4 separate regions of the Homo sapiens genome follow, and regions 2, 3 and 4 are each linked to region 1. Evidence: fine-mapped expression QTL. A gene starts in region 1. Each other region holds a variant in brackets. All regions are shown on one strand. Distances are between the middles of the regions.

Evidence for each region. PIP is the estimated chance that this variant, and not a neighbour inherited with it, causes the effect.
Region 2: its variant is fine-mapped to the expression of FAM110A in monocytes after Pam3CSK4 (Quach 2016, PIP 0.95).
Region 3: its variant is fine-mapped to the expression of FAM110A in whole blood (INTERVAL, PIP above 0.99).
Region 4: its variant is fine-mapped to the expression of FAM110A in thyroid (GTEx, PIP above 0.99).

What each region holds. Positions count from the first base shown.
Region 1 is chr20:829,306-837,407 of GRCh38, forward strand. It overlaps FAM110A (family with sequence similarity 110 member A), which reads left to right and starts at 4,410. Exons shown (of 2, transcript NM_001042353.3): 1 at 4,410-4,646. RefSeq lists a cis regulatory region at 1-191, a silencer at 4,661-4,810 and an enhancer at 6,327-6,426.
Region 2 is chr20:342,608-350,709 of GRCh38, forward strand. NRSN2 (neurensin 2) reads left to right here and starts at 4,504. Exons shown (of 5, transcript NM_001323682.2): 1 at 4,504-4,535; 2 at 4,827-4,905; 3 at 6,642-6,756; 4 at 7,031-7,225. The coding sequence starts at 7,037. It overlaps LOC101929937 (serine/arginine repetitive matrix protein 2-like), which reads right to left and starts at 6,083. Exons shown (of 4, transcript XM_047440635.1): 1 at 6,066-6,083; 2 at 5,493-5,778; 3 at 4,812-5,407; 4 at 3,659-4,384. The coding sequence starts at 6,083. The coding sequence ends at 4,061. RefSeq lists enhancers at 3,276-4,039, 4,040-4,802, 4,803-5,565 and silencers at 4,372-4,791, 4,812-5,341, 5,522-5,611, 6,638-6,932. The variant G/GC (reference allele first, on the strand shown) is at 4,401.
Region 3 is chr20:863,879-871,980 of GRCh38, forward strand. It overlaps ANGPT4 (angiopoietin 4), which reads right to left. Exons shown (of 9, transcript NM_015985.4): 9 at 6,022-8,102. LOC124904854 (a long non-coding RNA gene) reads left to right here and starts at 7,074. Exons shown (of 3, transcript XR_007067485.1): 1 at 7,074-7,157. The variant T/A (reference allele first, on the strand shown) is at 4,376.
Region 4 is chr20:954,640-962,741 of GRCh38, forward strand. RSPO4 (R-spondin 4) reads right to left here. Exons shown (of 5, transcript NM_001029871.4): 5 at 3,813-5,827. The coding sequence ends at 5,718. Among named protein-coding and RNA genes, the nearest start is that of ANGPT4, 42 kb to the left of the region's middle. The variant G/C (reference allele first, on the strand shown) is at 3,779.

The sequences.
Region 1 (8,102 bases):
ACCACTCCCCATGGTGGGGGAGGAGAAGGACTGGGAGGACTTGAATACTCTGAATTGGCACCAGGTGCTTAATATAGTCCTGAAAATAGAAGACCAATATGCTGTTGGCACATAAAGATGCCCACAATTCTAGAATCTGAGTGCGCCCAGATGATCTCTCTTTACATGGCCTAATTTGGGATCCTGACAAGTTCCTTCTGCCCTCTGCCTCACTTTCTCAATCTAGGAATGGGCCTCTCGGTTTTTGTTTTGTCTAATTTTAAGCTCTCGGCTGTGCATGGCAGAGGCAAACTTGAAGACGCAAGGGTCAGTGAGCAGGGCCTTTATCCAGGTATCTCAAATATCTCCCAACCCTGATTAAAGTTACATATCTCAGAGAAGAATTTGGTCAACACCATTGTTGTCATTCCTGGTTAATAACAGGGAAGTTGAGGTCTGGGAAGCACCCTAGTGATGTGTTCACATGGCCATGTGCTTCTGTAAAATTTACCAATGTAAGGCATCTTAACCTCATTCTGTTAAAACCACTATCTCCTTTCATTCCAACTTCCCTTTGCATCAGATGATGTTGGGGTTGGTGTGAGCAGTTTGGGCATCTTGCTAAAAGGACCTTAACATTTACTTTGGGTTTAGTGGGATATATTTATATTGTTTCCAGTCACTTTTGTGAAAAATTATTACTAACTGACCTGGTATTGAAATGGCTTCCAGGAATATATCCATACCGAGCATACTGAGCTGACTCAACTTGTCGTGGCATCAAGATTCAGGATCAGAGGTTATATCTCAAGATATATGAATGGTCCTACAGCACTCAGTTCCACAAGACTGTGAAGGAGAGGTTTGAATGTATACACGGAGCCAGCAGCTAGTTTATGGAAAGTATTACAGATGTGTTTGAGACAGGCAGCTAATAAAAAGAATGTTATTTTTCTGCGTTTTGTAACGTTTGTGCAATTTCTCTTTTTTTTTTTTTTTTTTTTGGAGACAAGGTCTTGCTCTGTCATCTAGGCTGGAATGCAGTGGTGAAATCATGGCTTACTGCAGCCTCAACCTCCTGGTCTCAAGCAATCCTCCCTCTCAGCCTCCTGAGTAGCTGGGACTATAGGCACGTGCCACCATGCCTGACTAATTTCTTTTTTCCTTTTTTTTTTTTTTTTTTGAGACGGAGTCTCACTGTCGTCCAGCTTGGAGTGCAGTGGCACAATCTTGACTCACTGCAACCTCTGCCTCCCAGATTCAAGTGATTCTCCTGGCTGAGCCTCCCAAGTAGCTGGGATTACAGGTGCCCACTACCACGTCCAGCTAATTTTTTGTATTTTTAGTAGAGATGAGGTTCTGCCATGTTGTCTAGATTGGTCTCAAACTCCTGAGCTCAGGTGATCCACCAGCCTCGGCCTCCCAAAGTGCTAGGATTACAGGTATGAGCCACCATGCCTGGCCAGCTAATTTCTTTTTAAAATTTTTTTGTAGAGCTGGGGATCTCGCTTTGTTGCCCAGGCTGGTCTGAAGCCCCTGGGCTCAGGCACTCCTTCCACCTCGACCTCCCAAAGTGGTGGGATTACAGGCATGAGCCACCTTATTGTGGTTTCTTGTCTCTTTCTAACCAAATCTTCACTTTATTACTTAATTTCATATCTGTAATTTTTTCTTAAAGAGGTCTCCCTAGGGCTGGACGTGGTGGCTCACGCCTGTAATCCCAGCACTTTGGGAGGCCGAGGTGGGTGGATCGCCTGAGGTCAGGAGTTCAAGACCAGCCTGACCAACATACTGAAACCCTGTCTCTACTAAAAATACAAAAAATTAGCGGGTATGGTGGCGGGCACCTGTAATCCCAGCTACTCAGGAGGCTAAGACAGGAAAATCACTTGAACTTGGGAGGCAGAGGTTGCAGGGAGCTGAGATCGTGCCATTGCATTCCAGCCTGGGCGATAAGAGTGAAACTCTGTCTCAAAAAAAAAAAAAAAAAAAAAAAAAGAAGTCTCCCTAGGCTGAAGCTACCTGCTCAATCTTCTCTTGTGTCTTATAGGATCACAGGATCCCCCTTGCCTTACCTCACTGTTACTCCCAAACAGTTCTCACATGTTTACAAGGGAATGTAACAGAGTGGATCAGAGAATTCATTCTGGATCCAGACCGACCTTAGTTTTCTCATCTATATAATGGGAATAATAGCAGGATCTCTCGCCTTAGATAGTCATGAAGTCCAATGAGATGATGTGTATAAAGCCCTAACACAATGTAGCAGAGGGCACAGGGCCAGGATTGATATTTAGCTGGTCCTCACGGATACAGCAGACTCCCTGTTTATGACAGTGGTTGGCTCTGATTTGGTTGGTGTCCATGCCAGAGTGTACAATCATTATTAGCTATTGATATATTATTAGCTCCCTCCCCTGCCCACCCAGGGGTTTACGCAGTAAGTTCTCAATTATTGGCAATCCAAACAAAGAATAAAAGACACCAGCTGGAATGAAACAGAGAAGCTGGTTCCAAATTGAGCAATTCAGACTGACTGCTATAAAATTTCCTCACCTTAAAGGCCCTTAGAGTTAATTCATTCTAATCCCCCTAAAAATATACTTTTTTGACATGTTCAAGTATTGGAAATTTGGAAAATTCACAAAAACACAAAGAAGAAATTAACTGCTGTGATTATAGATGATTATACACATATACATATGTATTTAATACATATTTATGCTGTACATAGTGTTTTGAAGCATACTGTACTTCAAAAAAATTTGGGAGGGGTGCATTGGCTTATGCCTGTAATCCTAGAAATTCAGGAGGCCAAAGCAGGAGGATCACTTGAGGCCAGGAGTTCTAGACTGGCCTGGGGCAACATAGCGAGACCCGTAGCTTGACATGGTGATGCGGGCCTGTAGTCTTAGTTACTCTGGAGGCTGAGGTGTGAGGATTGCTTCAACCTAGGTTACAGTGAGCTATGATTGCACCACTGCACTCCACCCTGGGCAACAGAGCTAGACCCTGTCTCTAAAAAACATAAATAAACCAATGTTTAATACTTAGCATTTCCCCCTATCTTTAAATATCTTCTAGCTACTTCACTTTTATTTTTATCTTTTTGAGATGATCTCTTGCCCAGGTTGGGGTGCAGTGGCATGATCTCAGCTTACTGCATCCCCCACATCCCAGGTTCAATCTATTCTCCTGCCTCAGCCTCCTGAGTAGCTGGGATTACAGGCATGTGGCACCACGCCTGGCTAATTTTTGTATTTTTAGTAGAGACGAGGTTTCACCACGTTGGCCAGGCTGGTCTTGAACTCCTGACTTCAGGTGATCTGGTCGCCTCAGCCTCCCAAAGTGCTGGGATTACAGGTGTGAGCCACTGCTCCTGGTAGCTACTTCACTTTTAATGGCTGCATAATATTCCTCATCAGAAAGTGGGAAAAATTAGGCTAGGTGGCGTGGCTCATGCCTGTAATCCTAGTACTTTGGGAGGCTGAGTTGGTAGAATTGCTAGAGCTCAGGAGTTTAAGATCAGTCTGGGCAACATGGCAAAACCCCATCCCTACAAAAAATACAGAAAATACCGGGTGTGGTGGTGCACACCTGTAGTCCCAGCTACTTGGGAGGCTGAGGTGGGAAGATTGCTTGACCCCAGGAGATTGAGGCTGCTGTGAGCTGAGATCCTGCCACTGCACTCCAGCCTGGGCGACAGAGTGAGACTCCATCTCAAAAAAAAAAAAAAAAAAAGAAAAGAAAAAGATAAAGAAATAAATAAAGTGTTAATAATTAAAAGTACTTTTAGAGGGTTATGTCATAAGCCTTGACAAGACTTGTTCTGTAAAGCTACCCGGCATGCAAAAAGCTCAATTAAGTTAGCTCCTCCACAGGATGGAATTATATAACCAATCCCTTTCAAGAGGCATTGAAGTTGTTTCCATTATTTTGCTATGATGAATAAGGCTGAGCAATATTAATCTTTGCTCATATCTTTGGTCATTTCCTTTGTAAATTTCGGGACTGCTGGGTATGCACATTTTAAAATTAACTCACTCATCATCATGCAGTTAGGAGAACAGAGAAAGGAAGGGGCTTGCACCGGGTCACATAGGGAGTTAGCGTCAAAGTCAGGACTAGGAACCAGCCAGGGCCCTCTAACTGGAGCTCTTCCAGCTGGGGTCCTAGAGGAAGTCCCAGCTGGCCGCGGGAGGGAGGAGGAGGAAGGGAAAGAACCAGGCGCCGGGGCTGAAGCGGCGGCAGGAAGAAGGTGGGGCCGGCTGGGAGGAGCGGGCGGAGCTGCTGAGCAGCGCCTCTCCTTCGGGCGGGGGAAGCTAAGCGGTCGCCTGGCAACCCTGGCGGCGCGCCGTTCGAACGGAAGCGAGGAACCAATCAGGAAGTCCGGGGCGAACCATTCTGGTGTGAAGGGGGGCGGCGTGCTCACTTCCCCTTCCACGGCGCCCCAGGGACTTTCCCTGCGGTGGGGGCCTTCGACAGTGAGGGCCACCCGCTCAGCTCGACCGCGGAGGGCAGCTCCAAAGGGGACCCCAAAGGTGCCCACGCGGGGCTGGGGCCTCCTGGGCGTCGTTGGGAGCGGCCACTACCGGCCCGGGTCCGAGCTGTCAGCCTCTCCAAAGCCTGCGCGAGAGGAGCCGGGACACGCCTAGCGCGGGCTCCAGGTGAGGGCGCGGGTGGGTCCGGGTGCGACCCCGGGTCTGGGGGCCCCGTTCCCCGAGCGTCTGCTGTCTGCTTTCTCCCCGCGTCGTACCTGCGTGTCATTTCACAGATGAGGACTCTGAGGCTCAGAGAGGCAAGTGTCCCGGCCCGGCGAGCTCTGGCGGAGAATCCAGTTCAAGTCTTTCTGCCCCACCTCGCAGCCCCCTAGTCTAGTCACATCTGGACTTGCCTTGAGAGGCCCAGACGGGCAACTGGTAGTCATTTTCCCAGCGTTTTATCGGCAGGGACCTGTAGACCCCTGGCTGGATCACATATCCCCGCGCCCCACACTGTCCTCGGGATACCCCCTTTGGGCGTCTGTCTTTCCTTCTCCGCAGTCCGGGGTTGGACTCGGCTCATTTGGCGCCTTTCTGTCTACGGGGACAGAGGACCACTCTTTGGGGATCGGACGGGACTGACATTTCTGGGCTGGATGCAGGGGCAGCAGATTCTCCAGCCCCCAGAGCCGCTGCTGGCCTCTTGGGAATCATCCCCAGTTTGGGGAAGGGAATAGAGCCAGTCCCTAAACCAAAGCCACTAGTCACCAGAGACTTTGGAATTGGGAGTGGGGCCGGAATCCCCCCAGGTGGAGCAGCTGACCTAGGCCAGACCCTGCTGTGTCTCCTGGGGACACCCCCTGCCCCCTAGGTTGCTATTGTCAGTCTCCTTTTGTAGGTGGGGAAACGGAGGTTCTAAGAAGTTAAGCCCCTTTTCGAAGTCACAGTCAGACAATGCAGTGGTTAGCTCCTAGTCCCTCTGGCTTCAATCTTAGAATCCTTGACACACAGAATCATGCATTTTGAGAGTCTTCAATCTCTTCATAAGGGAGTTACATATCCTCTCTCCTCTGGAGCCTGCCCCTGGCTTTGGGGGACAGGATCTCCGAGGACTCAGAAAGAAAACAAGGCTTTCTTTTATTCTTTCAACAAATATTATTTATTGACTTCATAAGCCCTGCTCTGGTTCTTGCATGTTTTGGTTTTTTTACTTATTAGCAAATGTATCATCTTCTCCCACTGTGATGCAAGGCAGGGGCTGAGGCAATTGAGCCAGTGCAAAATTTAGGGATGCCCAAAACCTCAGTAATCAAGACTGAAACTAACGTTCATGGACCATTTGTGTGTTCTGCAGGCAGGAGGTTAACTCACACAGCCTTCATGAAGTGCAGTCCTCCCATCTCTCTCTCTCTCTCTCTCTCTCTCTCTCTCTCTCTATATATATATATACACACACACATATATACACACACACATATATGTATATATATGTATGTGTGTATATATGTATATATGTGTATATATATGCATATTTATAAATCATGAAACCACTGCCCTGTCCCTGAGTTGCTCTGTGACATTGAGTAAGTTTCTTCAGTCTCTGGGCTGAGCTAAGAAGTCATGATGGTGCACTCAGGCCTGGGCAGAGGGCAGTCTAGGATAGGAAGTGGGCTTGGCTGTGGATCTGCCTCCCCCTCCCCTTTCTAATCCTGCGTGCCAGGCCCTTCCCCAAGACCTTGCATGTGTTATCTTCCATTCTGTCCTCACTGCAAAATCCTTCATCCCCATTTTGCAACCTCAAGTGCAGACCTAGGCCTAGAAGATCAACTTGGTATCAGTGGGCCTAGATGTCCACATCCACACCCATTCCACAGCCTACTCCCTTCTCCCTTCCTAATGTTAGTGCAAGGCCACCCTGAGCAAGGCTGACTCCTGGGCAGGCCAGGGCACCAGCGTCTGGGAGGCCTCCAGAAATAGCTCAGGGCCTGGTGTGGCTCTGGAGGTGGCCCAGCTGGGTGTCCCTGACCTGGACAGCTGGGCTGAAATTGAGCTGGGGCTGCCCTGCTGGCTGGCCCCTTGCCACTGCCTGGAGCCTTCCCAATCTCCTCTGGGGCAGGCAAGGGCCTCCCCAAATCTAGGCCAGGCTTCTGCTGAAGGGAAAGAAAGAAGCAGGTGGGAGGAAGGGGGCGGGTTGGGTGTAGAATGTCATGAAAATTATAACCTTTGGAAACCACACCTCCCACCCCCTCACCAAAGAATAAAAATCACTAACACCTCTTGAGCATTTACTATGTTCTAAGTACTTTACAAGTATGAACTCATTTAATTCCCTCAACTCTGTGATATAAGGTAATTACTGCTGTTCTTATTTCCATCTTGCAGAGGGGAAACTGAGCACAAGAGAGGTTTAATAATTTGCATAAGATAACCTAGAGGTGGAGTTTGAACCCAGAGAGTCTGGCTCTAAATTTTACATTTTTTGGGGGGGGGGGTGGGGTGGGGCAGTGAATGAATTAAAATGTATATAAAATAAAATTTACCATTGTAACCACTTTTAAGTATACAGTTCAGTGGCATTAAGTACATTCCCCATTGCCTCTCCCCCCAGTGCCTGGCAATCACCATTCTACTTTCTGTTTGAGTGAATTTGACTACTTTGGGTACCTCTAGGTATTATAAATGGAATCATAACAGTATTTGTCTTGTTGTGTCTGGCTTATTTCACTTAGCATAATGCCTTTAAGTTTCACCCATGTTGTTGTATGTGTTAGAATTTTCTTTTTTATGGCGGAATAATCTATTCTAATATTCTATGTATATGCCACATTCTGTTTATCCATTCATTCCTTGATGGACACTTGGATTGCTTTTGGCTGTTGTGACTAATGCTGCTTTGAGCATGAATGTACAAATATCTGTTTGAGTTCCTGTTTTTAATTGTTTTGGGTATACACTCAGAAGTGGAATTGCTGGGTGATCCTATGGCAATTCTGTTTAATTTTTTGAGGAACTACTTTACTGTGTTTCACAGTGACTGCACCATTTTATGTGTCCATCAGCAGTGCACAAAGTGCTAATTTCTCAACATCTTCACCAACACTTGTTATTTTCTGTTTGTATTTTTTTTTTGGTAATGGCCATCTTCAGGGGTGTGATGTGGTGTCTCATTGTGGTTTTAATTTACATTTCCCTAATGACTAATGGTGTTGAGCATCTTTTCCTGTGCCTGTTGGCCATTTGTTATCTTTGGAGAAATGTCTGTTCAAGTGACTCTGCATTGTTTTTTTTTTTTTTTTTTTTTTTTGAGACAAGAGTTTCGCTCTGTCGCCCAGGCTGGAGTGCAGTGGCGCCATCTCGGCTCACTGCAACCTCTGTGTCCCGGGTTCAAATGATTCTCCTGCTTCAGCCTCCTGAGTAGCTGGGATTATAGGCCCCCGCCACCATGCTGGGCTAATTTTTATATTTTTAGTAGAGACGGGGTTTCATCATCTTGGCCAGTCTGGTCTTGAACTCCTGACCTTGTGAACCACCTGCCTCAGCCTCCAAAGTGCTGGGATTACAGGCTTGAGCCACTGCACCCAGTCATGACTCTGCATTCTTAACCATTACCTGTGCTTCTCTTAGATTTGTAACCTCTGAGAA
Region 2 (8,102 bases), 490 kb before region 1:
TTTTTTTTTTTTTTTTTTTTTTTTTTTTGAGACAGAGTCTCACTCTTATCACCCAGGCTACGGTGCAGTGGCACGATCTTGGCTCACTGCAACCTCCGCCTCCCAGCTTCAAGTGATTCTCCTGCCTCAGCCTCCGGAGTAGCTGGGACTACAGGTGCATGCCACCACACCCGGCTGATTTTTGTATTTTTAGTAGAGACAGGGTTTCACCATGTTGGTCAGGCTGGTCTCAAACTCCTGACCTTGTGATCCACCTGCCTCAGCCTCCCAAAGTGCTGGGATTACAGGCATGAGCCACTGGGCCTGGCCCCACTGCCCTTTCTTACAGTAACAGTATTTCAATTTCCCTTTAGGGAAGCTCTTCAAGCAGGTTCTCAGTCCAAGAGGTTTCTCTGGGTTAAGCACTGCCAGCCACCCAAAGGGTGAGCAAGTAACCAGCCAATCAGAGACACTCCAGTGGGTTCAGTAAATGACATATTATCTAACTGGGGTGAGGGGAATCAACATCAGGGCTTTTCCTGAGACTATAAGGAGAAACAGATTCTTTTCCCAGCAGTTAAATTTGAAGTCTGTGGCCATTTTGCTACCATATAGGGAAAATCTGCCTGACATTGAAGCCAACACAGATGAGGGAAGAGCCAAGAGATAAAGAGAAAGATCCTGAGCATCTGGATACAGCCATGCCTGAAGCCAGTATCCCTTGACTTCTCAATTATGTGAGCCTTTATATTCCCTTTGTTTAAAGCCAGTTCAAGTTTAAAACTGCCATTTCCAGTGAGAACAATTCCCTATGTTGTATCTAAGGCCAAGACCTTGCCCCTGACTCTAGGCCAGAATGTCCTGTACAGTGCCATTCAACTCTGCCAAAAGCAAAGGGCATCAACTTCTCCACAACCTGGCTTTCCCTCATCTATTTTACATCTCTGTTAATGGGAGCATCACCCACCTGACCTATAAACATAAAAGTCAGCCTCTATCCTCTCTGTCTCTCTCCCTCTCTCTGTCTCTCTCTCTCTCTCTCAATCCCTGTCACTTCCCTTACTTCTTAGTAACCAAGTTCTGCCAACTTAACTTTATGGACATTTTTCACACCTGCACCCTCCTTTCCATTTTTCCTGCCCACTCCAATTCTTCATCATTTCTCACCTAAATTTTTACAAAATCAATAGATAACTAACATAGAGGTGTATAGTAAAAAGTGAATTTCGGCCGGGCACAGTGGCTCATGCCTGTAATCCCAGCACTTTGGGAGGCCGAGGCAGGCAGATCATGAGGTCAGGAGATAGAGACCATCCTGGCCAACATGGTGAAACCTCATCTGTACTAAAAATACAAAAAAAAATTAGCTGGGCATGGTGGCATGTGCTTGTAGTCCCAGCTACTGGGGAGGCTGAGGCAGGAGAATCGCTTGAACCCGGGAGGCGGAGGTTGCAGTGAGCTGAGATCGCACCACTGCCCTCCAGCCTGGTGACAGAGCGAGACTCCATCTCAAAAAAAAAAAAAAAAAGTGAATTTCATTCCCACCCTTGCCATCAGTTACCCTCCCCCAAGGCATCTACTGTTACCTCTTTCTTGTCTATTTTCCCAGAAGTTCTCTATATGTGCCATCTTTTTGAGAATTTCAAATGGAGGCATACTATCAAGACTTTTCAGAACACTGCATCCTTCTTCACTTGAAGTGTGATTAATATAAATAATTATAGACTAATTTCTTCTTTCTAATGGATGCATAGTATTCCACAAAGACATATAATGTACATAACTCGTCTTCCATTGATGGATATTTAAGTGGTGTCCCAGTTATCTGTTAGCACAGAACAAAACCCCCCAAACCTAGTGGTATAACACAATAACCACTTGAATATGCTTGTGGGTTCTGTGTGTCAGGAATTCAGGCAGGACACAGTGAGGCCAGCTTGTTTCTACTCTGCAATGTTTGAGTCTTCAGCTAGGAAGATTTGAAGATTTGAAGGCTGAAGCTGATTCAAATGGCTGGCCACTGGAATCATCTTGTTCTTCCCCTTCCCCTTCGCCTTCTACAGTGCAATGGCATGATGTCGGCTCACTGCAACCTCTGCCTCCCGGGTTCAAGCAATTCTCCTGCCTCATCCTCCCTAGTAGCTGGGATTACAGGTGCACGCCACCATGCCCGGCTATTTTTGTATTTTTAGTAGAGACGGGGTTTTGCCATGTGGCCAGGCTGGTCTCGAACTCCTGAACTCAGGGTATCCACCCGCCTTGGCCTCCCAAAGTGCTGGGATTACAGGTGTGAGCCACCGTGCCTGGCCTCATCTGGTTCTTCTTCACTCACTTCTTTTATGCTTGAACTGGGATGACTCAAAGCTAAGCTTAGCTGGGACTGTGGTGCCTTCATGTGTCCTCTCCTGATGGTCTTGGCATCCTGACAGCATGGCAGCCTCTAAGCAGACATGGAGCCCTAGGTAGGCATGGTGCCTCAGGCTCCAAGAGCTAGAGTTCTAGCAGAAGTTGCCTGTACTTTTATGTCTGGACCTTAGAAGTCAGAGTGTTACTTCCACCGTACTCCATTGGTTGAAGCAGTCATCAGCTCACCCAAGATTCAGAGAGGGTACAAGGATCCCACCTCTCTACAGAGGAGTGCTAAAGAATTTGTAGCTATATTTTAAAACCACCACAGGTTGTTTCCAATCTGTAGCTATTCCTGTAGTTCATTTTACAGGCTAACATCTCTTGAATGTCTTCATTTCTCTGCACCAGGCCAAGACACTGTCATCTCTGATCTCTTTGCTGATCTCTTGCTGTCACTCTTGTGCTCAACATGCTGTTCTCTTGACAGCAGCCAGAGGTCTTTTCAGAATGAAAATCAGATCACATCCCACCCCTCTTCATAACCCTTCCATGGCTCCCCACTACCCTTGGGCTGAAGCTCAAACTCCTTACCTTGGCTTATGAGGCCCCACAAGGTCTCACTTCTGCCTGCCTCTCCAATGCCATCTCCTGTCACCATTTGGGGCCTTTAGTTTTGAGCTGCAAGAGTTCCTCCCATCACACACACACACATACACACACACACACACACTTAAATGAGTAAGTAAATAGAACATACAAAACGCTTAAACACTTTGCACATAGTGAGCATAATAAGTTTGCTACTATTATTAGACTGTCTTCAGTAAATATTTACTGGGCTGCCTACTCAGTGCCAAGCACTATGGGAGGCTCACAGATACAACACGAACAAGAAATATGTGGCCTTGGCCAGACGCGGTGGCTCACGCTTACAATCCCAGCACTTTGGGAGGCCGAGGCAGGTGGATCACTTGAGCTCAGGAGTTCAAGACCAGCCTGGGCATCATGGCAAAACCCTGTCTCTATTAAAAATACAAAAAATTAGCTAGGCATGGTAGTGCGTGCCTGTAGTCCCAGCTCCTCAGGCGACTGAGGTGGGAGGATCACCTGAGCCTTGGGAGATCGAGGCTGCAGTGAGCCGTGATCATGCCACCGCACTCCAGCCTGGACAACAGAGTGAGACGCTGTCTCAAAAAAATAAAAATTAAAAAAAAAGAAAAAGAAAAACTAAAAAGGAAGATGTGGCCCTATCTTGCCGAGCTCATTCTTCTGTGTGTCCCCAGCCCCTAGCACAAGGAGAAACAGAATAGATGCTCAAGACACAAAGGCATGTCTGTGCAAGGGTGCTTGATGACGGTTGGAGGGGCACAATGACTTTCCCAAGATCACACAGCAAATGTGGGACAAAATCAAGGCTGACAGCTCATGACAGGGTGGGAGGCAGATGCAGCTGCCTGGCACAGGCTGGCTCTCCAGGGAGATGGGCAGTGGGCACGCATTGCCCAGGGCAGAACTGGGGCTAGGGGAGGAAACAACAAGGGAGGCTGTCATTAGCTCCTTCCAAAGTGGAGGTCACTTCTCTCCCAACCCCGAGTCCTCCACCCAAACTCCCTTCTCAAGGTACAAGGGCTGATCCCGTACCAGGGATGGGTAGGGACTCAAAGAGGAAAAGAGGATGAAAAGAGGATGGGGACTGAGTGAGATGTGAGGACTCCAGAGGGATTAGCGGCTCTCAAGGCAAGTGGGAGGGGACTTCCCGGTAGGAGCCCGGAGACAGATGGGAGCCTGTGAAGAGGGCGGGGGCCCGGCGAGGAGAAGCGGTTTCTACGCTGGGGTGGGGCTCCATGAGGGGGATGGAGACCTGGAAAAGGGACTGACGGTGCAGCGAGGAGAGGAAGGCTCGGTTAAGGGATGGGTCTTCCACGGGAGGGGTGGGGAACTGCGGGAGTGACGGCAGCTTCGGTGAGGAGTCTGAGGGGCTGCGTGAGGGGCTGGGGCCCAGGGAGTCCGAGGGGTCTCTGTGAGGGCGCTGGGGTGTCCGAGCGAGCAGGGAACTCTGGAAGGGGACAGGA[G/GC]CCGGGGGAGCTGCAGGCGGCCGCCGTCTGCAGAGCCAGGCCCTGAGGCGGGCCGGCGCCCCCTCCCCCGCCCCGAACTGCGGCGCAGGCGCGAACCGGACCCGCCTTTGCTCGGCGGAGACAGCAGGCAGAGAGGTGAGCTTAGCCCTGCCCCACGCGCGGCCAGGCCCCAGCCCCAGCCCCTGGAGAACCCCCGCGCTCTGCCCGCATCCTCAGCCCGGGCCGTGTCCCGCCAGGGCCGGGACCTTTGCGCCTGAGCCTCGGCTTTGGGAGGTGGGGGTCCCAGGGAAGCAGCAGGGGCGGGAGACAGAAACAGCCCCATCGCCCCTCGACGCCTCAGGGTTGATAGGCTGGGTAGAGGCTTCAAAGGACACCCCCACCCCCGCCAACACTTCAAAAACCCATTCCTACCCCTCTCTGCCTCAGTTTCTCTCTAGGGAAAAGGACGCAGTTGGTGTGGAGCAGGGCATCGGTGGTCCTGTCAGGAAGAGTGGCGCGGGTGCCGGTGGGGAAGGGAGGCGGGAAATGGCCTGATTTCCCCGGCCGACACCCCCTACCCATCCCCCCCGGGAGGGCGCCCCTTCTCCCCCGCCCGGGCAGCGCTGGACGCTGTAGTGGGCGAGTCTGAGGGTCTGGGAAGGACACAACTGAATGAGGCTGTGCAGAGGCGACAGATTCCGTCCATCTTCGGGCCCTGGCTTCCGTCACTTCCGCCCGTGCCTGCCGCCCCTCGCCTCCTCCCTCCGCCGCAGTCTCCCCACGTCGGACAGCGCAGCCCCCTCCGCCTCCCGCTCCCCTCCCACCGAGCTCCTCCCGGCTCCCGGGCTGGGGACGCCTCCCTAGCGGTTCCCATGGCAACCCTCGTCCCGGGTGCCTGCGCCCCGCCCCCCGCCCGCCAGACCTACTCCGTGCAGCCCTGAAACGCCAGGCGGAGGGGCCAGGCCGAGCGGGAGGCAGCGTCAAGGTCACCTTCCCTCTCCAGTAGCAGCAGGACTGAGTGATTCCATCTATTTGGAGTCGCGGAAGCGGTGAATTGGAGGGGAGGAGCTGACCCAGGTCAACAGCCCCGAAGCCCCCTCCACACCTCCTCACCTGTGGCCTTGAACAGTGGTCTCCGCACGGAGGCTCCTACCGTCCCCCAGGCCCCATTTCTTCTCCCCACCCGGGCCTCCCCAGCGCCTCGCCGGGGCGGGTACCGCGCTGGCCGCACCCTCCGCACAGCCCGCCCCGCCCGCCTCCTCCGGCGAGCCCTCCTCTCCAGACCTCTCGCCCTCCTCCTCCGACGGTCCTTCGCTTTCAGTCTCTGCCTTTTCCCGTTCTCTGTCGTGGCTTTTGTTGTTGTTGTTTTTCCTCCTTTCCTTCCCCGCTCTTCTTTTCCCTGAATTGTAAGTGAGGAGGGTGTACAGCCACTATTTATGGACAGGCTTTCTTGACAGCAATCTTGTGTGCCGTGTGACTCCAAGCAGAACCTCCAACCGTGTGTGTGTGTGTGTGTGTGTGTGTGTGTGTGTGTGTGTGTGTCGTACCTATCTGGGTATGTCTCTGTATGCTTTGTGAGTATGTCTGTGTGTTTCTCTGTGCTGTTTCGGTGAGTTTCTCTATGCAGGGATTTGAGGACCACATCTGATTGGAAGTGAGGGGCAGCTGTCAGGACCTTTATCTTACCCTTTGGAACAAGCACATTGTTTCATTTTGCAGGAGGCTGCTAATTAAGGCTGAGGGCCATCATGGAGACTGGGGTAGAAGCCCAGTCCTCCCCCAACACCTCCTGGCTTTGGTTCGGGCCAAACCTGTATATGGATATACAAGTACCTTCCATTCCCAAGATCCGTGTCCACTTTTGTGGAAAAAAAAAAAAAGGTTATTTGATAGGTTTCTCTGGAAATCTAACAGCCCTTAAGCCTAAGAGTCTTTAATCCTGAGGGACCCTGACTTTCACTTCCAATGGAGTCAAAATTCATTGGAATCTGGAGGCTTTCAGGGGCAGTCCTGGGGAGGACCTTTTTATAGCCTTGCAGCTTGGGAACTCCAGCCCAAGTGTCAGCCATGACAATTACCCCCAGGAGGGGGTCTGAAGGGGAGCGGAGGGTGAGGCTCTCTCATTCCAGATATGGAGACTAAAAAGTTCAAGATGGAAGTAATAGCAAAAAAATTACAGTACTAATCACAACAGCTACCATTTCTCAGCATTAGACACAGTAACTGTATGAAAGAAGTATGATTATTAGGTCTGTTTTACAGATGAGGAAACTGAGACCCAGAAAGGTGGAAGCACTTGTCTAAGGTCACGCCTCCAGGAAGCAGTGTGTCCACGACTCCAGTCCAAGTGGTCAGGCTCCAGAGCCCACAGTCCCAGGTACTGGGTGGCCTCCAGAGTAAACATGCACATTTATTGACACCTCCAATTGCCAGGCACTGGGCTAAGGCCTTCAGTGCATTGGCTCATTCGCAGTGTGCTTTGGGAAGGACAGGCTGGGATTCCAAAAGGCCAGACTGTGCTATGCGTGTAGGGTGTCTCGAGTGGGAGGAGAAGCGGGTGGGGCACAAAGATTTAGGGGGCTTATGAAGGTCACCATGAGCAGCTCCCACTAATCCCTCCCTCCGTCAGCTGCACCTTACCTGCTCCCCAGGGGTCCATGATGCCGAGCTGCAATCGTTCCTGCAGCTGCAGCCGCGGCCCCAGCGTGGAGGATGGCAAGTGGTATGGGGTCCGCTCCTACCTGCACCTCTTCTATGAGGACTGTGCAGGCACTGCTCTCAGCGACGACCCTGAGGGACCTCCGGTCCTGTGCCCCCGCCGGCCCTGGCCCTCACTGTGTTGGAAGGTAAGGCCAGATGAGCACCTCCCATGATTCCTCTGCCTTGATGGAGGAAATGAGTCTGAATTTGAGGCTCAGAGGAAAAAAGAAGAGATAGCGTAGTAGTTAGGAGTCTTGCACAGTCAAGCAACAGAAAACCCAATTCAAATGGGTTTAAATAATGAAGGGAGCCTTCATTGTATTTGTATTTACATACAAATTATTTACATAATTATTTACATATTTATTGTATGTAAATAATGGTGGCTCATGCCTGTAATCCCAGCACTTTGGGAGGCTGAGGTGGGCAGATCACCTGAGGTCTGGAGTTCAACACCTGCTCTGTCAGCATGGCGAAACCCTTTCTCTACTAAAAATACAAAAATGGACCGGGTGCGGTAGTTCACGCCTGTAATCCCAGCACTTTGGTAGGCGGAGGCTGAGGCTGGTGGATCTCGAGGTCAGGAGTTGGAGACCAGCCTGGCCAACATAGTGAAACCCTGTCTGTACTAAAAATACAAAAATTAGCTGGGTGTGGTGGCGGGCGCCTGTAATCCCGGCTACTCGGGAGGCTGAGGCAGGAGAATCACTTGAAACCAAAAGGTGGAGGTTGCAGTGAGCTGAGATCAATCCATTGCACTCCAGCCTGGGTGAAAGAGCGAAACTCCCTCTAAAAAAAAAAAAAAAAAAAAATGAGCCGGGCGTGGTGGCAGGCGCCTGTAATCCCAGTTACTTAGGAGGCTGAGGCAGGAGAATTGCTTGAACCCAGGAGGCAGAGGTTGCAGTGAGCCAAGTTTGCACCATTGCACTCCAGCTGGGCGACAGAACAAGACTCTGTCTCAAAAAAAAAAAAAAAAAAAAAAAAAAAAAAGAAAAAAGAAGGGAAAATGTTGCTCATTTTTTA
Region 3 (8,102 bases), 35 kb after region 1:
ATTGATAATTTTGTTTCAGTCTTTTTAGTTGTTTGGGAACTATAAGCCTAAGGAGTTGATAGCTCACTTCATGAATGCACACAAATAAGTAGTTTACCGTCAATGCCCTCCTAAGGGCCTAAGATCAACAGGAATGCACCTGTAGTTAAACAAGTGGTTCTATTACTCACTGGGACAAGAAAGTGCACAGCATGGGGAACCTTGGAATGTCTTAGTGAGAGTGTTAGAAAAGGCTTATTATAGGATTGGTCTCGTGTTAGGTGACTTGAATAGGGTTTGAGGATGTGGGGTTTTTCTTCAGATTGGATGCTCTCAGGAAGTGAGGGTAATTATGCAGTTGCGATCTTAACAAGTCTTGTCTATAGAGAAGGCAGACTCTGGCAAGGCTAATGCTGTCATTGGGAAAGAAGCAGCGGTCACTTGTATTAGCTGGGACTGAGGGGTGTTTGGTCATTTTCGTGGCTTGGAAATGTGCATGATTTGTCTTTGTTCAGACATGATTACAGAGTGTTCCACTTTTCGTCTTGATTCATCAATCACTGAGGACCTCATCTGATGTTGGTGTTCTGGGGAATCATTAACATTGGACAGGACATAAGCTGTTCTCTGTGCATGTTGGGCTGACTTGCAGCAACACCCAGTCCTAGCTGATGACTATCCAGGATGGCCCCTGGATGTCAGGGCTGCTTTCCTCTTTCTCAATTTCAGTCAACATTAGTGGGTCTGAGAGGATCCCTTCCTCCTTTTAAAGCTCTCCATATATTAAGTTGGAGCAACAAGCTCATTCCTGCTCAAACTGGGCAGGCATTTTTAGATTCTTTTCTGCTCCCAGAAGTTTTCCTTTCCCATTATTTGGTCTTGAGCTGGTCTCAGGAAGAAGTAATGAAGGTGAGAGATCTGCAGTGGGATCCTGGGAAAGGTGGCACATGTGGATCACTGAGGCCTGGGCTCGGATGGTGAGGATTTGAAGATTCCCAAAGGCCACACCTAAGGGTCACCAGAGGGTGTCCAGCCCCCATTATCCAGATGGGGGAACTGAGACCCAGGAGGGAAGGGCTCTGTGTTGGGTCCCAAGGTGTGCCATTCCAATTATCAACTGCCCTCCCTTACCTGACTGGCAGAGTCCCTTTCTTCCAGTTTGACGGAAAATACTGTTTGGCTCTTTTTTTGTGGGATGGAGTGTAGAAATTGGGGAAAAGAAGAAAATATAAAATCTTACATTAAGCATCCTAAGCCAATTCATGTGGTCGAAGAAGCAGAAAAGCAGCAGAAAAGCAGCAGAATGCGATGCCAAACACATCCTCTGTAGGCACGTGTGTTATACCAGGTTGCTGCGAGGGCCCAGAGGACACATCTGTTGTAGCTGAATAAGTTCCAGTGTTGAACCTCAGCACACACATGCGCATCTGGGCACCTGTGCACAGAGCTTGTATGCACAGAGCAGGAACACATGCATGCTACAAAAGGATCAAGAGTCAAACTCCAAACTGGCTGCCCTTATTGATAACTTCCAGCTGATGGAAGGTGGAAAGGCGAAGGTAGATGTGTTTTGGATATAAAAGGTCTGTCTTCTCTGTTTACTGTCTATGTGACCTTGAGCAAATTGATTGACCTCTCTAAGACTCAGTTTTCTGCAATATAATATGGTTCTCTTCTCTCAGAGTAAGGATGGAGTTCAGTGAGGAAACAGAAATGTAAGCATTGCATCATTCGGAATGCTCTGGGCTGCAAGTAACAGAACACCAACTCCACTGGCTTAAATGAAAAAGAAATTGATCATCTAGAGACAGGACTCAGGACCTCAATGATGTCAGTAAAGCTCCAGGCCCCTTCTGACCCTCCACTCAACCACTCACTCTCCCACCTCCCTGTCAGATTGGTCCCAAATGTGGTTCTCCTGGTGGTCCACACTGGAGTAGCATCCATGCTGTGTAGTGTCTTCTCCATCAACAGAAGAGAGAATCTTTGTTTTTCTTTTCTTTCTTCTTTCTTTTTTTTTTAGACAGAGTCTTGCTCTGTCTTCTAGGCTGGAGTGCAGTGGTGCGATCTCAGCTCACTATAACCTCTGCCTCCTGTATTCAAGCAATTCTTGTGCTTCAGTCTCCCAAGTAGCTGGGATTATGGGTGCCTGCCACCACTCCTGGCTGATTTTTGTATTTTTAGTAGAGACAGGGTTTCATCGTGTTGACCAGGCTGGTCTCAAACTCCTGACCTCAGGTGATCCACCCGCCTCAGCCTCCCAAAGTGCTGAGATTACAGGCATGAGCCACCACGCCCAGCCAGCAGAAGAGGTAACTTTTCTGTATCCCTGAAACGCTAAGTCTTCCTCTTTAGTATGAGTGAACTAATTGAAGTCACATGACCAGCCCTGGCAGTAGGAACCATGGCCAGGGGAATATCATGTGCTGACTGGCTGCAGTTTTGGTCCCTGAACACATCAGTGGCTGGGGGACCCCTTCAGACTAAAGGACCTAGCCCTGCAGCTGGGGACTGATATTAGGAAGGGAAAGGGAAAGGGCATGATTCATGTCCCTCACTGCTCAGGGTCTTGCTGTGTAGCATCTCTTCTGAGATGTGGGTCAGACAGGGTGTTGGCCATCGCTAGAAAGGACCCCTCCTACAAGGACAAGACTTGAACAGGGATCCTGAAGACTTCTGGGGTTTCTATCTAGAGTCCAAATGGGTCTCTAGAGTCAGCCTGTTGACAGGCTGAGTTGAGTGGCAGCATCTCTAGTGGATCTGGCTCTCTGCCTGTGACCACTTGTGTGCATGAGCAAGTGCCTCACAGACCTGCATGTGTACATGGAAGATGTATTTTTACCTCCATGTTTGCGTCTGTAGCAACAAGTATGAAATGCACATACATGTTCATGCACATGTCAATGTACGTGGCTACCACACAGTAGGTATACTGTACAGTGTAACCATACAGTGTTTCAAATATGCATATATGTTCATATATGTGCATATATGCAATATCTGGATAGATGTATATGGCATAATGGCATATTTATATATTAATAAATCAATCATTTTAGAGTATTAACTATATATGAGTTATATTATGCCTAAGATATATTAATAAAAACAATGTTTGTCAAGTACTTGCTATATGCCAGGTACTATTCTAAGCACATATGTTCTAAATTAATATATGTATTACTTTAAGGATACATAACCTAGTGTCTTTTTGGGGTCCATGGATGAAGTGTATCTTCACTCACCTTTAATTAAATTCGGTTGTTTCATTCTTCATTTGTGAATGTAGGGCATTCACAAATTCACAAATTCATTCTTTCAATTGTGAATGTAGGGCACAAGCCACAGTAGTGTCAGGAGTGCCTGGAACTTTGTCACCATTAGAAATCATAGCTATTTTTGTATCTTGTTATAATGATTATAGATATCTCAAAATATTAACAGTCATCATTTGTTTTGACCTACCACTGATCTTGTTATTTAATGTATTAGCAAAGAAGCATATATAGTACAATATCAAAACTGTGTTCTTTAAAAAAAAAAAAAGTATATATATATATATGTATATGTGTGTGTGTGTGTGTGTGTGTGTGTGTGTGTGTGTGTGTGTGTGATGAAGTCTTGCTATGTTGCCCAAGGTGGCCTTGACCCCCTGGGCTCAAGTGATCCTCTCACTTCAGCCTCCCAAGTAACTGGGACCCAGCTTAAAATATTTTGATGACAGTATATATATATTTTTTGAGACAGAGTCTCGCTCTGTCACCCAGGCTGGAGTGCAGTGGCACAATCTCAGTTCACTGCAAGCTCTGCCTCCTGGGTTCATGCCATTCTCCTGCCTCAGCCTCCCGAGTAGCTGGGACTACAGTTGCCCGCCACCATGCCTGGCTAACCTTTTTTTGTATTTTTACTAGAGACGGGGTTTCACCGTGTTAGCCAGGATGGTCTCGATCTCCTGACCTCGTGATCCGCCCGCCTCGGTCTCCTAAATTGCTGGGATTATAGGCGTGAGCCACCGCGCCCGGCCAATGACTGTGTTTTTAATATAATTTGTTTCATTCATAATCCAATGCATTTAATTTTATTTTAAGCATGTGAAGACACCATTCTGAGGAGGGGTCCATGGCTTCACCAGATGCCAAAGACGCCCATGCCACAGCAAAGAAAAATTCATTGATCAATCCTTCAATGACCCCATGAAGCAGCAGTGTTACCAGTTTGCTACAGAGGGGAACCTGAGGCACAGGGAGGTTGTGCAACTTGTTTAAGGTCACATAGATATCGAGTGGTTGTGCATTATTATATCTGTCAGTTGTTTTTATAGCCTATGGGCTGATGTGGGCTTGTCCTTTGTGTCACATCAGAAAGCAAGTCTGGTCAATTATTTTCTTTCTCAAGG[T/A]TAAGTGAGATCAAGAAAAATAATACACATATATTGCATGGATTATTTGTGGTCATCATTTGCTAATCCTTATACCTGTGCCATGTTGGATTAATTATTACAGCTTTGTGAGCTGCTTTATTAAGGAGGGGAAGTAGAGTGAACAAATCATGGCAAGTCACTTCACCTCATCTTCTCATTTAAGGATGCTGATACTGGTGTTGCCAAGGCGACGCTGTCAGCTTTCGGAAGCATCTTTAAATGGGAGAGGCGAAGGCCCACACAGATCGAGGCGGAGGAAAACTCAGAAAAAAGGCTCAAATCCCTCGGCCGCAGAGACAAACCATCCTGGTGGGGACCATCCCTCACCCCCCGCACATGGCCACTTTCTACCTCACCTGTGGTGGTTGTCTCTGGGGTGTACTCAGGGAACTCTCTCCCCAGTGTGGAAACTGCCTTTGCTGGGAACAACGCAGAGATCTCAGAAATGATGGATCCATCAAGTGCCAGTGGGAGAGACTGAGTGGTCTTGGAGGCCTTTCCAGGAAGTTCCTCCTGCCCTTGGTACACGAGTTTGGTGGTAGATGCCCAGATGCCCAGAGTGCTCTGGGAGAGGAAGGCAGCTCACAAATGCAAATGCGCTGGAGGTGGTGCTTGGCTGTGCTGCCTTGGATGAGACCCTTTCCCTCTCTGAGCCCTAATTTCTTTTTTCTTTTTCTTTTTCTTTTTTTTTTTTTTTTTTGAGACAGAGTCTGGTTCTATCGCCCAGGCTGGAGTGCAGTGACAAGATGTCGGCTCAGTGCAACCTCCGCCTCCCGGTTCAAGCAATTCTTCTGCCTCAGGCTCCTGAGGAGCTGGGGCTACAGGCATGTGTCACCATGCCCAGCTAGTTTTTGTATCTTTAGTAGAGATGGGGTTTCACCATGTTGCCCAGGGTGGTCTTGAACTTCTGAGCTCAGGCAACCCACCAGCCTTGGCCTCCCAAAGTGCTAGGATTACAGACTAGGAGCCACTGTGCCCGGTGCCTAATTTCTTCATCACTGAAATGGGAAGAAAACTAACCTGGTGCAGGGAGAGGTGACAAGTGTTTTCCATAGGAACCCGCAGATGCAGGTATCCTAGAGGCTGGCACCTATGAGCTGTGGCCCCCAGGAGACCCAGTCTAGGCTCGAGACCACACCAGCCGTGCCCTCTACAGTGCCTTGTGCTGCCCAGGATCCTCAGGTTGGTCTTGTCTGCAGCCATTGTGAGTCAGCCTCACTGTCAGAAGGGCTTTCAGAGGTTGCTAGGTGCTCTGTCCATGGGAAACTGAGGTTCAGAGAGGGCCAGGGGCTCTGATCCAATGGCAGAGCCAGACTGATAACAGGGTCTAATATTCCTGGGCAGGACACAGCTGTGCCCTTGATAGTCAGAGGCAATCTGGGATGAACTGGATCCTGGGGTCAGGACCTGGGGACAGGGAGGCCGAGAGAGGGCACAGAGGTGGAGAGAAGAGAGATGAGAGCCAGGGACAGGGAACGAGGGAAGGCTGCCTAGCATCCCTGTTTCCTGAAGTCATGACTTGGGTGTCACTGACCCCACTGCTGGTGCCAGGCATGATCATGAGACCGAGGTCTGGTCAAGCAGAGTAAGAGTGATAAGCATAGGGATGGACACAAGACCAATCCTGGCTGCAGAAAATCATTCCTTTACTGGAATCATGGAGACGAGGGAGCTCCCCGGGTCAGGGATGCTGAGCTGGGAGGACATGAGCCTGGGGCTGCCAGAGCCTTCTTGTGAGGAAAGATCCTGGCTGAGAATGAAGTCAACGGGGCAGATGGAGGGGCTGAGAGGTGGAGCTGACATCATTTGAGCCTCTGGATCTAACCTCACTTGCCTTTACCCTTAGACTTTCCAGTTATGTGAGTCAATTTATTCCTTAGGGCTAGAATTTCTATCCCTTATACCTGAGTCCTGGCATGGAAGAGGAAGGAAGGTAAGAAAGAAGGATGAATATTTAAGAACAGGTGTCTGAGGCTGGGTATGGTGGCTCATGCCTGTAATCCCAGCACTTTGGGAGGCTGAGGCAGGTGGATCACATGAGGCCAGGAGTTTGAGACCAGCCTGGCCAACATGGTGAAAACCCGTTTCTACTAAAAATACAAAAGTTTTCCGGGCGTGGTGGTAGGCGTCTGTAATCCCATTACTCAGGAGGCTGAGGTAGGAGAATCACTTGAACCAGGAGGCAGAGATTGCAGTGATCTGAGATCATGCCACTGCACTCCAGCCTGGGTGACAGAGTGAGACTCTGTCTCAAAAAAATAAAATAAAATTACATAAAGAACAGGTGTCTGAGGATAACTCAAATCAGCTTCCTGCCCCCTTATAAAATGGGAGTAGAGAGGGACTTGGGCCTTCAACCCACCCAGAGGAGTTCTGTCCCTGGGCCTCACAGCTTTGCCCTGTCTCCTCTCTAGCTTGCAGTCAGCCTAGAAACTACAATAGAAAAATAAATGATGTGGATACAAAAATAAAATGCCTTTTCCTCACCTGAGTGCAGGAGAAGGGGCGGCATGTGCTGGGGAATGCCTTCCTCACCCCATTCTCCTCTTTGAGGACAAACATTTATTAGGCACCTGCTTCATGCCAGGCTCTATTAAGAAGATGACATACATGGTCTCATTTCCTCCTTGCCATAGCCCAGCCAGGAAGGAATATTATCATCTCCATTTTACAGATGGGAAAACTGAGGCTTTGATGATGTGAAGATAACTGGTGCCTTGAGAGGCTGAGCCACTGGACCAAAGTGTCAGAGCTGGAGCAGGTTTGTCCGACTCCAAAGCCCTGCCCACCACACCACACTGCACACAGTAGAGGCTAAATAAAGGTCTGCTGGGCAAATGCTGCTTAAGGCGATTTGAGCTCTCTGGGCAGCAATCTGCCCCTAAAGATTTCCCATCATGCCTGAAATGCCACCATTAGCAACCATGTCCTTTGAGTCTTGAAGGGGAAGAGTGCTAATTCCCAGGAATGAGATCAAAGTCAGTCTGTGCTGGGTTTACTCAGGGATCGGCTGAGAGTGGGACTCAGGGCTGGGGCGAGCCAGGGGGATGAAGGGGTCCCATTCCCATTGGCTCAGTCTCATCCAGGAGAAAACCTTCTGAGGACAGAGGTGTATCCTGGCGGTAGGGCAGGTGGGCTCCTGGCTATGCCTGGGTGTTGGCTGATGACAACAGGGCAGACAGCATGACACAGTGATGGGGGCAGGTGACAGAGTAGCTGTGGATCCTTTCTGACTCCATCCTCTGAAAGAAGCTATGAGGGCCCTGGTCTCCCAAACTCAGGCAGAGGCCTTATCTCCTCCCCTGCAGCTCCCCACCTACCACCACAGAGGCAGCATCACTGCTGGATGGGGAAGGGAGGGAGGCTAGGGGTTAGGGCTTGGAGGCAGAGAGGATCTGGACTTGGAGACAGATGTCCTGCCTAACAGTCCCTGTAATTGAGCCTGGGGGAGTTGAGGTTACAGGGAGTCCTAAGGGAAGCCACCCAGGTAGAGATCAGCTTCCTGGGACTTGAAGGAGCCTTGGAGGACATGAGCCTATAACACAGACAGGGACCTAGTTCTAGACCCTTCTTCAGGGATGGTATCTGTTTTAACTGAAAGGTTATTTCCAGTTGTTTTTAGAGGTTGTTTGAGGCTGTCACTGTGGCCCTTGTAGCCAAAAAGGGTGAGTATAGCTGGGGTGGGGATGGGGTCGTAGGGCTCCTC
Region 4 (8,102 bases), 130 kb after region 1:
CCGAGATCGCGCCACTGCACTCCAGCCTGGGCGACAGAGCGAGATTCCGTCTCAAAAAAAAAAAAAAAAAAAAAAAGAAGATGAGAAAACTGAGGCACAGGGAGAGATACAGGATCTTGCCTAAAGGCTCATAGCTGGCGTCACTGGCGGCGACGGGATTCGTGATCTTCTGTCTGCTCTTACCCACCTCACTTCCCTGCCTCCCACTCTAGGAGAGAGGTGCCACCATAAACCCCATTCCAGCTGTCCATTGCATGAAACAACCTCCTCAACCTCAGAGGCATAAACAAACAACCATTTTATCATGTTCCTGGGTTCTGTGGATCAGGAGTTCAGGCAGGATAAGGTGGACAGCTTCTCTCTGCTGGGCCTTCGATGGGAGGACTCTGTGGCTGGGAGGGTTCTGCAGTGGGGGGTAAGGAGGGGCAGCGGGTAAAACAGCAAGGACTAGAAGACCCACTTGCGAGAAGGCTTCTTCAGCTACAAGTCTGGCTGGAGGATCCATTCCACCTTGTGGATGGTAGGTTGGCTATGGCTATGGGTGAGGGTGGGAGTCATGGGGGGCTGAGTGGGAGCCATCAGACCCCAGGGCTGAGTCCACATGTTCCAGGATCTGACAGCTTAGGAGGCTTAGCAATTCCAGGGCTGGCGCCCCCATGAATAGCTTCTCCAGGATTTTGCAAGTGCTGTTTCCTCCCCCTCCCCACCCATCTCATTAACACCTCGCACTCTTTAATTCTCAGCTTGGCTATCTGGTCCTGGAGGAGGAGCTCCCTAACCCCTGTATGCCTTAGACAGGATATGCTAGATCCTGTCCTCATGGAAGGTCTTATCACATTGTTGGAATTGACTGTCTGCAGACTGAACGCTTGGAGGACAAGGCAGGGTCTTTATCACCAGCACCCAGGACAGTACCAGGCACACAGTAGGCACTTTATGCATATTCACGGAATGAATGAATGGGTGAGACTGATGGATTTTGAATGACTTGAACTTGAGCCTCAGTTTTTCCTCCTAGAAGTTAGCTGGCAACGTAGCTGTGAAGGTGGCAGGAGATAGGTGGGAAATGCGAGGTTAGTAAGAGGAATTGGTAGAAAAATGGTAGTTATGATTTATGCTGAAGAGAGAAAAGCAAAGGAAATTAGATATTGCACCTGAAATGCTTAGCTATGTTTGGTGCAGAATAGGTGCTCCATAAATATAAGATGACGTCATCATCCTCATCCTCATCATTACTATTATTTGTATTATAAGAATGCACATTTCCTGAGTTAGAAGGTCCACATACGATGGCTTGAAATTTTCCTCTGGGCTGGGTGCGGTCGCTCACACCTGTCATCCCAGTACTTTGGGAGACTGAGGCAGGAGGATCGCTTGAGCCCAGGAGTTCAAGACCAGTCTGGGCAACATAGCAAGACTCTTTCTCTACAGATAATTTTAAACATAGCTGGGTATTGTGGTGTGCATCTGTAGTCCCAGTTACTTGGGAGGCTGAGGTGGGAGGATCAACTGATCCCTGCAGGTCGAGGCTGCAGTGAGCCGGGATCATGTCACCGACCTCCAGTCTGGGCGATAGAGCTATTACCCATCTTAAAAAACAAACAAACAAAGACAGAAAAAAGAAATTTTCTTCCAAGCGAAAATGGAGAGGTGTAATCCCCATAGGTCACCTGGGCCAGATGTCTGGGCAGGAGGTCATGCTCTGAGTCAGATTTCCCTTCTGTGCAAGGAAGGACCTGGGACAGGGACCTCTGAGTCTGACACTCTCTGCACAGCTGAGAAGGCCATTCAGCTGAAGTCCCCATTGCAACTGTTGTCCTTCAGCCTGAGGCAGTCAGTCCTTCGGTCTGAGGCAGCCTGTCCCTTGCCCTCGGCTACCCTCCACCCTGCTCCAGTCCTGCTAGGAGAGAACCGCAACACGACCCCGTTTCAGAAATGCGCTCCTTGACAAGCCTGGCTGCGACCTGTTCCTGGTTGACTGCCGTCATCCGGTGGCAGCATGTGGGAATGACATGCAGGGCTGTGGTGAGGATGAGGATGGAGTGAGCGGGTGGGGGGAACTGCAGAGAGGGCCCTAGTGTGGCCCAGTTGGAAGCGGTGACAGGAAGAACCCACCAGGGATTCCTCAGCTCTGGCCAAGGGGTTGTTCTCTCCCTCTGGCATAGCATCCAGAAGGCCAATAGCAGCGGAACCTCCCCCTGGGCTCTGCCCAGACTGCCTCTCTTTGGCTGTGTGACCTCACCCTGTTTCTGAGCTTCTCTGTGAACTTCTCCAAGCTTGGCTTGTAAGAAGGGAGTGGGCGATGCCCACCTGACAGCAGAGTCTCCTTCCCAGAGAGGCCCCTCAATCCTCCAGAGAATGTGGGAGAGGCTGGGATTTGAAAGGATTGGAGCTGGGGGCAGGGAACGTCTGAGATGGAAAGGTTATAGGAGGGGCTTAGGCCCTGAAGAAATTTCATCCTGTAATTTGAAAATATTAAAAAACCACCACAGCCCCCAGCTGAGGACAGAGGACCAGGCCCCCCAAGAAGAAAGAACATGGCCAGGGAATTGCAGTACTGGAAACTTCTACCCTTATGTTGGTCTTTTAGAATTGTGAAAATTAGAACGTTCAGCATCCTAAAACTGGAATCTTAACAGAAAACACTATATAGTGTATGTATGTGTGTGTGTGTGTGTGTGTGTATATATATATATATTTATATATATATTTATTTATATAGGGGCTGGGTACAGTGGCTCATGCCTGTAATCCCAGCACTTTGGGAGGCTGAGGTGGGAGGATCATTTGAGGCCAGGAGTTCAAAACTAGCCTGGGTAACATATTGAGACCCCCATCTCTACAAAAAATAAAAAATTAGCTGGGTGTGGTGGTGTACACCTGTAGTCCCAGCTACTTGGGAGGCTGAGGCAAGAGGATTGCTTGAGGCCAGGAGTTTGAGGCTGCAGTGAGTTGTGATCGTACCACTGCACTCCAACCTGGGTGACAGATCAAGACCCTGCCAAAAAAAAAAAAAAATTAAAAAGATACACACACATACACACACACATACAGACTAAACTCTGTAGAATCAGATCATTGAGCCTTGAGGTCAGAATCAGAATTGCAGCTGCAAATCTAGACTCAGCCCTCTGAGCTGGAAGTCATCTGAGAGCCACCTCTCCCCTCAGCTTGTCCTGGAAAGAATGTTTGCTCTCACTGCCTGCTCCTAAACTTGTTTGCAATGAATAGATCTGGGGGAGGGCCCCAAAACCTGAATTTCTAAAAGGCTCCCCAGGGGATTCTGTTGTTGGGTCTTCCAGATTTCGGCAATAGATTTAATTTAGCCAGGCTTCCTCTTCATCACATTCATCACATGGGAAAACTGAGGCCCCGGAAGGGGAAGTGACTTGACCTGGACCCCATCAGATAGCTGGTGACAGGCTGGAGCTCCCACCTGTGCCTCCCAATGCCAAGGCCACTCTCACCAGCAGCCCAGGGTGTTTAGATGGCCCCGTGGGACTGTCAACCTCCTAGGTACCCCTGGTCCCTGAGACATCTGGTTCGTGAAACTGCGAGGTTCTGGGGATCGAGGTGTCACCCTCTTCTGCCTCTGGCTGAGTCTGCTTCTTGAGAGTAGCCTGGAGGGGCTGAGGGCCCCTCCTCTTTTATCAGCTCCCCCCAAGCTGAAACCCCACCCCAATCCCCAATACACTCTGACCCCTCTCAGCCCCAAGCATTCCTGTGAAAACCACTCCACATGTTTTAAATTCTGCTACTCCAAACTCAGCAGTATCAT[G/C]GTTTTGCAACACCCTCTTGATGCTCAAGAAGCATTTACAAGTTTCTTTTCCCTTTATTAAGAAAGTTTTAAAAAAAAGTTAGGGTCTTGAAACAATAACAACGGAGCATTTCAGAGGCACAAACGTTTGCAGAAGAGAAGCTGGTGGCCTGGCCAGGCGGAGGAGGGGGCTCTAGCTGTTCTCGGGGAGGTGAGAGCAGGGAAGTCAGAGAGAGGGTGGGCCTGCTGGGAGGGGGGGGTTCAGGCCAGGGCTCCCCAGCTGCCAGGTGGAGGGCAGGTCTGAGGGTGGGTGCTCTCTTGGGGTCGGGAATGTAATATTTCATCACCTAGAGCCTCTCCCCCAGCCTGCTGACCATCTTCCTTCCCCAGGCCACCCCTGGGCCCCTTGGAGCTCCGACTCTTGCTTCTCCTGCCCATTCCTGTCCCAGTCACGGAGCCCTACGTGTTCAGGCCAACCAGTCACGGCAAATACAAATCCCGTTTCTGAGGATTCCGGGGAGCAGAGCAGGAAGGGGGTGTTATGATGGCAGAAGGATAGGCAGTGAGGACAGACTTGCTTCCAAGCTGGGTCTGACCTGGAGACTCCTCCCAGCGTCGTTCCTGCCTAGGGCGAGGGGCGTCACAGCGAAGCACAGATGCTCAAGTCACTGGTGGTGGGTGTGGGCGAGTGTGGTGGTGGGTGTGGGGGAGTGTGGTGGTGGGTGTGGGGCAGTGTGGTGGTGGGTGTGGGCGAGTGCGGTGATGGGTGTGGGCAAGTGTGGGGGTGGGTGTCAGCGTGTGGGGGTGGGTGTCAGCGAGTGTGGTGGTGGGTGTGGACGAGTGCACGGATCTTCCCTTGCTCCCCACCCACAATTCCCTACATTTCCCCCCTCAAGTGACCCCCAAATTCTCCTCTCCACCGTGAATGTGCTGAGCAGAGCCATCAGGCAGAAGCAGAGCCTGAAGGCTTCCTGTGTGACCCTGGGCAAGCCCCTTCCTTCTCAGACCTGTTTCCCCACATGGGCAGGAAGCGCTGAGGTGGGGAACAGAGCTGCTGGATAATCTCAGCTTTCCTTTCCGTTTCAGTGGCCTCTTCTGGGCTGGGCAGGTGGATCCCCCAGCAGTGACAGCTCACCTGATCCGGCTTGGGAAAAAGGGGCATGGAACCCATGAGAGGGAGGCCTGTGGGGGAGTGCCGATGAGGGTGGCAGGCAGCTTGCAGAGGATGCCCTCCAGGGCTGGCTGCCCACCCAGAGGCCAGGTTGTGACCCTCCACGGCCAGCTGGGGGAGGTGTCCAAGCCAGGCCTCTGGAAGCCCTGGAGCCTTGTCCAGCCAGCTCCTCGGGGTGGCTGGTGGCTGAAGGCTGTGGAAATGGCCTCTGGGGACTGTCCAGAGAACCAGGTGCTCACAGCTCAGGGTCCTGGAGCCTCCCCCAGAGCAGAAGCAGGGCCTTCAGGATTCACCTGTGCTGTGTCCCAGCTTTGCCCTCTGGAAACCCTTTCTCTGCAAAGATGGGGTCAGGGAAAGGCCTGGGAAAAGATGTTTGCTTTCTTTAAGTTGTAGATAGAGAAAGCTGCAGGGGAGGGCACAGGCTCATGGTCCCTCTTAAAGTGTGTGTGAGAGGGAGACAAGAGGAGGGAGAGAGAGAAGGATGCGGTGAAGGACAGGAAGAAACACAGGAAGAAAGAAAAGGAAAGATAAAAGATAAGTGAGAAAGAAGAGGAAGGAAGGGAAGGAGGGAGGGAGAAAGGAGAGGAGAATGGAGGTGGAAGAAATAAAGGAAATAAAAAAGAAAAAGAAAGGGAAGGTAGACTGACAGAAAAATGATAGAAGGGTGGAAAGAAAGAGAGGACAAATGGAGAAGACAGAGGAGAAAGAGTAAGAGGAGAGGAGGAGAAGGAGCAGGAGGAGGTGTGCAGGGGCCGAGGACTAGGACCAGAGAGTCGGGAGAGCCGGCGGTCAGGGCTGCAGGCCGGGCTGGCGCGGCCTCACGTCCAGCCTGCGGTCCAGCTTCCTGTCCTTGCGTGGGCGCCGGTCCTTCCTGCCCTTCTTCTGGCCGGGGCTCCTCTCTGCAATGAGAGGACAGAGCCCGGTGACCAAGGCTGCAGGGCCAGTTAGGTCCTGGGAGCCTCCTCAGTCCTGAAAGACAAGGGTGCCCCACCCACTCCCCAACAACGGGGCTCAGAACATTTGGGCACTGACCTTGCAGTCCCTCCTGTTGAGAGTTTGGACCGTGGGCTAAGGTACCCCAAACTGAACCTTTCTCTCTAGGTCTTCAGGGAGTGGCGAGGGCCACTAACTTGTTCAGGGCCTTCTTGTGCTGGACATCTGGCTCGGCCAGGCCTGCAGGTTCACCTGGGGCCCCCCAATCAGCATGTCGGGTGGCCTCATGGGAGTCCCCATGGCTTTCCCCGGCACACTCCTTCCATAGCTGAGCAGGCTCTGTGCTGGACGCTGGACACCTTTCATCTGTGTCCCTGCACCAACTTCTGCATAACACTGTGGCAACAATACTTCAGCATTTAGCAAGCGCTCACTGTATGCAGGCCACAGCCCCAAGTGCTTTATGTATACGAAACTCACAACAGCCGAGAGAGGCAGGTAGGGTCTGAGCCACACCCAGTCCCGTCTTCTCCAATTGTCCTCTCTTTCTCTCCACCCTTCTATCATTTTTCTGTGCCAGGCTACCTTTCCTTTCTTTTTCTTCTTTATTTCCTTTATTCCTTCCACCTCCACTCTGGCTGTGCCCGCTGCCCAGGGAGTTCTTCTGAGCAGTTGCCTGTCATTGTTATGGACAGGTGAGAAGACCACAGCATGGTTGGGAGCAAGGCCAGCCCTAAGTTTCTGCTTTACAAAGTGTCTCCACACCCAGGACATTCTCCTACATTGCTTGGGCCCCATTCAGTTCCCCGCAAGGAGCTGTGTGTCCATTTGAACACGATGAACCTGAGGCTCCATGAGTCACTTTCTGAAGGTGCGCAGCGAGGCTGTTAGAGACCCTCTGAGCCTAGTGGCAAGGGGAGGGCAGTTTTATTCCTTGGGTGTCAACTATGTGCCCGTCTCCCCAAGAGTCAGGGCTGTGGCTCCAGTCCTGGCTCCTTCCTCTGCAGAGCAGAGTCAAGGAGCTAAGACCAGGCTACCCACCTCTGGGGCTCCCCACGCCCACTCTGAGCTCTTGGGGAGCACTGAGGCCAACTCCCACTCTGAGCTGCAGAGCTGACTGTGCAGGCCTCAGGTAGGACAGCATCTGGAGATGGGGTGTGGGTGCTGCCTGAGTGGCCCTGCCGGCTCTGATGTGGGGGTGTGGGGGCCAGTGGCTTTGTGTCCCTACCCCTTCCCTAGGCCTGCCTGCCAGCTGCTCATGTACCCATCCAGTCACCCACCCATCCCTCCACCTATTTACCCACCTACACACTCACCCACCTATTCACCCATCTACTCACCCACCTCCATACCCAATGACCCATCCATCCACCTAGGCACCCACCCATCACCTATCCATCCACCTGTTCACCTATCTACCTACCTACCCACCCACCTAATCATCCACCTACCTACTCATCCACCCACCTACCCTCCCATCTACCCTCCTATCCACCCATCTACCTACCCACTCACCCACCTGTGCATTCAGCCATCCATCCACTCATCCAACAAATATTAACTGGATACCGACTATGTGCCAGACTGTGTTAGAGGCACTAGAGAGACAGCTGTGAACAAGGCAGATAAAGCCCTTGCCGTCACTGGAGATCACACTCCAGTAAGGAAAACAGACGCTGAACAAGCAAACACGAGAATGAGAAGGCTCATTTCAGAAGGGTGCAAGTGCTACCATGTGATATGATGGAAAATGACTCCGGGGAGGGGGACTCCTGGGAAGCCTCTCTGAGGAGGAGCCACTGCAGCCAAGACCTGGGTGATGCAGGGAGCTACAGCGGGGTTGTTGCGAGGATTAGAGTCATGTTTCACAGCACTAAGCACAGCCAGCACATGGTAGATGCTTTATGAATGTTTGCAGTTATTGTGATTATTATTATCCAGGGGAAAAGCTTTCCCCTCATGATTCCCCAACAGCCATTCACCCCCAGCTCTTGGAGCCATGAGAGGTGCCATGTGGTAATGAGTGCAGAAGAACTGTCTGCCTCCTGTGTGAGTCCTGCTCTGGCTCTGGGGTCTCTTAGGTTCTCTGGTTCCACCTCAACCTCACTCTGTCCTCACCTGCCCAACATGACTCCCAAAGGCTCCTATCTCTGCTAGCTGCACTCCCAACCCAAATAGCACAAGTCCTTCTGAAAGAGGAGTGTCCCTGAGTTCAAATCCTGGCTCCACTATGTCCCAGCT